Regions from separate parts of the Homo sapiens genome. Here region 1 is linked to region 2. Evidence: fine-mapped expression QTL. A gene starts in region 2. The other region holds a variant in brackets. All regions are shown on one strand. Distances are from middle to middle.

What was found. PIP is the estimated chance that this variant, and not a neighbour inherited with it, causes the effect.
Region 1: its variant is the best candidate, but not a certain one, in a credible set for the expression of LEMD3 in whole blood (INTERVAL, PIP 0.77).

The regions. Positions count from the first base shown.
Region 1 is chr12:65,226,641-65,229,556 of GRCh38, forward strand. All of the region lies in intron 4 of LEMD3 (LEM domain containing 3), which reads left to right. Among named protein-coding and RNA genes, the nearest start is that of MSRB3, 51 kb to the right of the region's middle. The variant T/A (reference allele first, on the strand shown) is at 1,766.
Region 2 is chr12:65,168,227-65,171,142 of GRCh38, forward strand. It overlaps LEMD3 (LEM domain containing 3), which reads left to right and starts at 1,357. Exons shown (of 13, transcript NM_014319.5): 1 at 1,357-2,892. The coding sequence starts at 1,371. LOC124902953 (a long non-coding RNA gene) reads right to left here and starts at 1,190. Exons shown (of 2, transcript XR_007063349.1): 1 at 991-1,190. RefSeq lists enhancers at 875-934, 1,120-1,692, 1,375-1,524, 2,435-2,514 and silencers at 1,645-1,854, 2,238-2,441.

The DNA.
Region 1 (2,916 bases), 58 kb after region 2:
AGATCCTAAGACAGTATAATAAGGAGATTATATCTGGAGTCAAATTCTGGTACTGCCAGTAGAAGCTATTACATTTTGGTAAAGTCTCTAACTTTTCTGAACATGTTTCTCTGTGAATGTGGGACTGCCGTTAATACCTGTCAAAGTTGTTGGGAGACTTGAGTATATAAAATGCCTAGCTCAGTGCCTGATGATTATAGTAGCTTCCCAATAAATTCAATTTCTGTGTTTTCTAATTAAATCAGTGCCACTCTAGCGAGTAATCTCTAATAACATGCCACAGAAATTTTGTTTAAGGTTGTTTATTGTCTTTATTTTCAATTTTGACCTAGATGAGAACATTAATGACAGTAAAATTTATGGATAGTGTAATAGCTAATAGACTGGACAGTTAAAGGATCAGAATTCAAAAAGATCTTGACTAAGGAGGAGTTATGATTATAGGGCTCAGTGTTATGGGATGGACGAATGTCAGGGTGCAGGCAAAAAAAGGGATTGGATTGAGGCTAAAGGAGACATAGAATAAAATATTCCATGAAGAAAGGCATAGTGAGAATCCAAAGCAAGCAAACTATTCCTTATAAAATAATTGAATGGGTTTTCACTTCTAGTAGTAGGACTATCTTATCCCATTCAGTGTTTCTTTCCTGTTTTCTTTTTGTTAGGTAGTTAAACCTCTGAGATTTGATCTCTGAGAGGTAATACCGTAGATCTGTGTTATGATTGGTCATAAATTCCTGGAGCAAGTTTCATTGCTTTTCAGAAGAATGCTGAGACTCTTAAAGCATATGAAATAGGATTAATTCTTCCTTGGTATCTGGGGATTACTTCCGGGACCCCCATGGACACAAAAATTTGTAGATGCTCAAGTTCTTTATATAAAATACTGTAGTATTTACATATAACCTATGCATATCCTGCTATATACCTTAAATCTTCTCTAGATTACTGATAATACAATGTAAATTGTATGTAAATAGTTATTATTATACTGTATCATTTAGTGCAAACTTGTCCAACTTGCAGCCCAGGATGGCTTTGAATGCGGCCCAACACAAATTTGTAAACTTTCTTAAAACATAAGAATTTTTGCGATTTTTTTTTTTTTTTTTGGCTCATCAGCTGTTGTTAATGTATTTTTTGTGTGGCCCAAGACAGTTCTTCCAGTGGGGCCAAGGGAAGCCAAAAGATTGGACACTCCTGGTTTAGGGTATAATAAGGAAAAAAAAAAAGACTGTACAAATTTAATGCCGACATAATCATCTGTTTTTTTCCCAGATATTTTTGATTCATGATAGACTATATTGACTCTATTCAGTATTTCAGTCCATGGAGGTGGAACCCATGGATAAAAGGACTGACTGTACTGTGTTTGAAGGACTGAAGAAATGGGATAGGGACTGGGGACAAGATAGGACCTGACCAGTAATTAAGGTGGAGCTGAGGAAGAGGCAGGGGTTGGTGTGGAATTATTAACCTCTCTTTCACTTCTTCCAACCATTTTCTTGTAGCTGTGGGTCAGCAATGGTACAAGTTAAAAAGAAGGGACACAGATGCGGGGTTGGGGTAAGTCAAAGTCTAAGCCAGGCAGCAATAGAGTATAAGATTAATTCTACTGAAGACTAGCAGCAAAAAAGTTACTAGAAGCACTCTTGCATGAGTTAAATTGGAAACTGCTTATATCTACTTAAAAAAAGATATTAATGAACTGTAGCTTTTTGTGTTTTATTATTATTATTGTTATTATTTATTTATTTATTTATTT[T/A]TTTTTTTGAGGTGGAGTCTTGCTCTGTTGCCCAGGCTGGAGTGCAGTGGCGAGATCTCGGCTCACCGCAAGCTCTCCTTCCCAGGTTCATGCCATTCTCCTGCCTCAGCCTCCCAAATAGCTGGGACTGCAGGCACCTGCCACCACGCCTGGCTAATTTTTTTGTATGTTTAGTAGAGACAGGGTTTCACCATGTTAGCCAGGATGGTCTCGATCTCCTGACCTCGTCATCTGCCCGCCTCAGCCTCCCAGGGTGCTGGGATTACAGGCGTGAGCCACCGTGCCTGGCCACTTTTATTATTTTTAATTGACATAATTGTACATATTTATGGGGTATAGTGTGATATTTTGATACATGTATACAATGTGTAATGATACAGTCAGGATAAATGAGCCATCACCTCAAACATTTATCATTTCTTTGTGTTGGGAACATTCAAAATTTGCTCTTTTAGCTATTTGAAAATATATAATAAATTGTTAATTATAGTTGCCTTGCAGTGTTATAGAACACTAGAATTTATTCCTCCTACCTAGTTATAATTTCATTTAACCAACCTCTGGCTACAGACCCTCCACCTGCCACTTTGCCACTTTCTAGCCTCTAGTAACCACTATTCTCTTCTACCTCCATGAGATCAACTTTTTAGTTTCCCCAAAGGTAAAATAAGCCAAGTTCTTAGTAGTCCTTAACTTGGACTTCTAACTCATTTGTCTTCCACAAGTGAGAATATATGGTATTTGTCTTTCTGTGGTTGGCTTATTTCACTTAACATAATGTTCTTCAAGTGCATCGGTGTTGATGTGAATCACATAATTTTATTCTTTATTATGGCTGAATAGTATTCCATTGTATATATACCACATTTTCTTTATTCATCTGTTAATGAGCACTTAGGTTGATTCCATATTATTGTTAATAATGCGGCAATAAATGAGAGTACAGATACCTCTTTTCACTTACTGATTTTCTTTCCTTTGGATATATACCCAGTAGTGAGATTGCTGGATCATATGGTGGTTCTATTTTTAATTTTTTGAGGATCCACCATACTATGTTCTGCAATGCCTGTACTGATTTACATTCCCACCAACAGTGGATAAGAGTTCCCCTTTCTCTGCATCCTCGCCAGCATTTGTTATTTTTTGTC
Region 2 (2,916 bases):
CTCCCAAAGTGCTAGGATTACAGGCGTGAGCCACCGCGCCCGGCCGTATTTATGCTTTTGACTAACGTTTTTCTGTACAGGTGTATAGGGTAATGTAATAGGTAAAATAACTCATTCAACAACAAAAAATTATTGTAGTATTTTGTAGCTACTAGGATTGAAGTACTAAAGAATTGTCTGTCTGCCAAGGTTTGGGGAAATGGGAAAATGGGACAAGATCTTCACCACATGGGGCACATTTCACCTCTCTGGGATTCATTTCCTATTCTGTAAATGGCAGAGTTGGGGTTCCAGGTCTTGTCCTTGTTTTTTTGACTTTGTGTGAAGGTTTCTCCACCTCACCTGGCACTAGTCTTATTTCAAAATATTCATCTCATACTATCCTCTCTTTGCAATTCTTTAATTCATTCAACAAATATTTATTGAGCTTCTACTAGTATTGTGAGTAACAGAAGCAAGGTTCCTCCACACATGGAGCTTATTATAGTCCAAAAGGATAGGACAATAAATAATTTTGAAAGTAAACAAATATTTATTAATAACTGATAAATAACTATTGGTTGGAAAGGTGCTAAGAAGGAAATAAATAGGATCATGTGTTATGTCTCTGAGAGTCTTAGAATGAAGCAGACAAGCTCTTTCACTTTCAAGTGCTGACGTAGTAAAGTCATTAGGTTTCAAAAAAGGAAAAAAAGATAATATCTTACAATTAACTAATGAATGAACAGCCATTACGCTAGAAGAAAATTGTATTGTGATTGGTGTACTCCGTATCTTCTCAGAATGAGAGAGGTGAGGCTTCTCAAAAAGAGCAGCGAGAGAAAGTCACTTAAAAATTTTTTTTTTTTGGTAGGTCAAGCTAAAGACGAACTGAAAATAGACAACCTGAAGTCAGACGGGAAAGCTGCCAATCTAGTCTGGCCAGCAGAATTTCTTTCAGTAGGTCTAGGCTCCCTCGGCATTGGGAATCCAGATGTAAAGAAAACTTACGCCATAAACTTCAAGGTAGATTTCAGTTATTACTGCCCGGTGGCAGGAACCTAGGAAGGTGAGGTCAAGGTGTGGTTTAGTAAGAGACAGCTCCCGGGAACGGCACTTGGAAGGGCAGGGCGGAGAACAGCTGGAGATGAGATAGAGAGCAGGGGGAGAATGCGCCGACACCTCAAGGTGAGAGAGTAGAAACAGTCTCCGCCGTGGGAGCCGCGCGCTGCTCAGGTGGCTCTTTCCCGCTCAGGTGAGCTCCTCCCGCGCCTCCCATTGGCCGAGATGCCCGCGGCGCTGGGAGGGCGACGCAGCGCGGTCTAGTTCAGGGTCTAGGGCGGCGCGTCACTTCCGGTAGCGCGGAGCTTGTAAAACACCCTGGAGAGAAAATGGCGGCGGCAGCAGCTTCGGCGCCTCAGCAGCTCTCGGATGAGGAGCTTTTCTCTCAGCTCCGCCGTTACGGCCTGTCTCCCGGACCAGTGACGGAGAGCACCCGCCCGGTCTACCTCAAGAAGCTGAAGAAGCTTCGAGAGGAAGAGCAGCAACAGCACCGGTCAGGGGGCCGCGGCAACAAGACGCGGAACAGTAATAACAATAACACGGCAGCCGCCACGGTCGCAGCCGCGGGACCAGCGGCGGCGGCGGCCGCGGGGATGGGGGTCCGGCCGGTCTCGGGCGACCTCTCCTACTTACGGACTCCTGGGGGCCTGTGCCGAATCTCGGCCTCTGGCCCAGAGAGCCTCCTGGGAGGGCCCGGGGGCGCCTCCGCCGCCCCCGCGGCTGGCAGCAAAGTGCTGCTGGGCTTCAGCTCGGACGAGTCGGACGTGGAGGCCAGTCCCCGGGACCAGGCCGGCGGCGGCGGGAGGAAAGACCGGGCTTCGCTCCAGTACCGCGGGCTCAAAGCGCCGCCGGCGCCCCTGGCCGCCAGCGAGGTGACTAACAGCAACTCTGCAGAGCGAAGGAAGCCCCACTCGTGGTGGGGGGCCAGGAGGCCGGCGGGCCCCGAGCTGCAGACCCCGCCGGGGAAAGATGGAGCAGTGGAGGACGAGGAAGGGGAGGGAGAGGACGGTGAGGAGAGGGACCCGGAGACCGAGGAGCCGCTCTGGGCGAGCCGGACCGTGAATGGCAGCCGGCTTGTCCCCTACAGCTGCCGGGAAAACTATTCGGACTCAGAGGAAGAGGACGACGACGACGTGGCCTCCAGCAGACAGGTATTAAAGGACGACTCCCTTTCCCGGCATCGGCCCAGACGAACCCATAGTAAGCCTCTCCCCCCGCTGACTGCTAAATCGGCCGGCGGCAGGCTGGAGACTTCAGTTCAGGGAGGGGGAGGACTCGCGATGAATGACAGGGCGGCGGCTGCCGGGAGTCTAGACAGGAGCCGAAACCTCGAAGAGGCGGCGGCCGCGGAGCAGGGAGGAGGGTGTGATCAAGTGGACTCCAGCCCCGTTCCTAGATACCGTGTTAACGCTAAGAAACTGACCCCTCTCCTGCCCCCGCCACTTACTGACATGGACTCAACCTTGGATTCGTCAACAGGCTCCCTTCTGAAAACCAATAATCATATTGGCGGTGGGGCCTTCAGTGTGGACTCCCCCAGGATTTATTCTAACAGTCTCCCTCCCAGTGCGGCGGTGGCCGCCTCTAGTTCACTCAGGATCAATCACGCCAATCATACGGGCTCCAATCATACCTACCTGAAAAACACATACAACAAACCGAAGCTTTCCGAACCCGAAGAGGAACTTCTCCAGCAATTTAAACGGGAGGAGGTGTCCCCAACAGGGAGTTTCAGTGCCCACTACTTGTCGATGTTTCTCTTAACTGCTGCCTGCTTATTTTTCCTAATACTGGGACTGACTTACCTAGGAATGAGAGGGACAGGAGTATCTGAGGATGGAGAACTCAGCAGTAAGTATTAAATCCTGTGGGTAA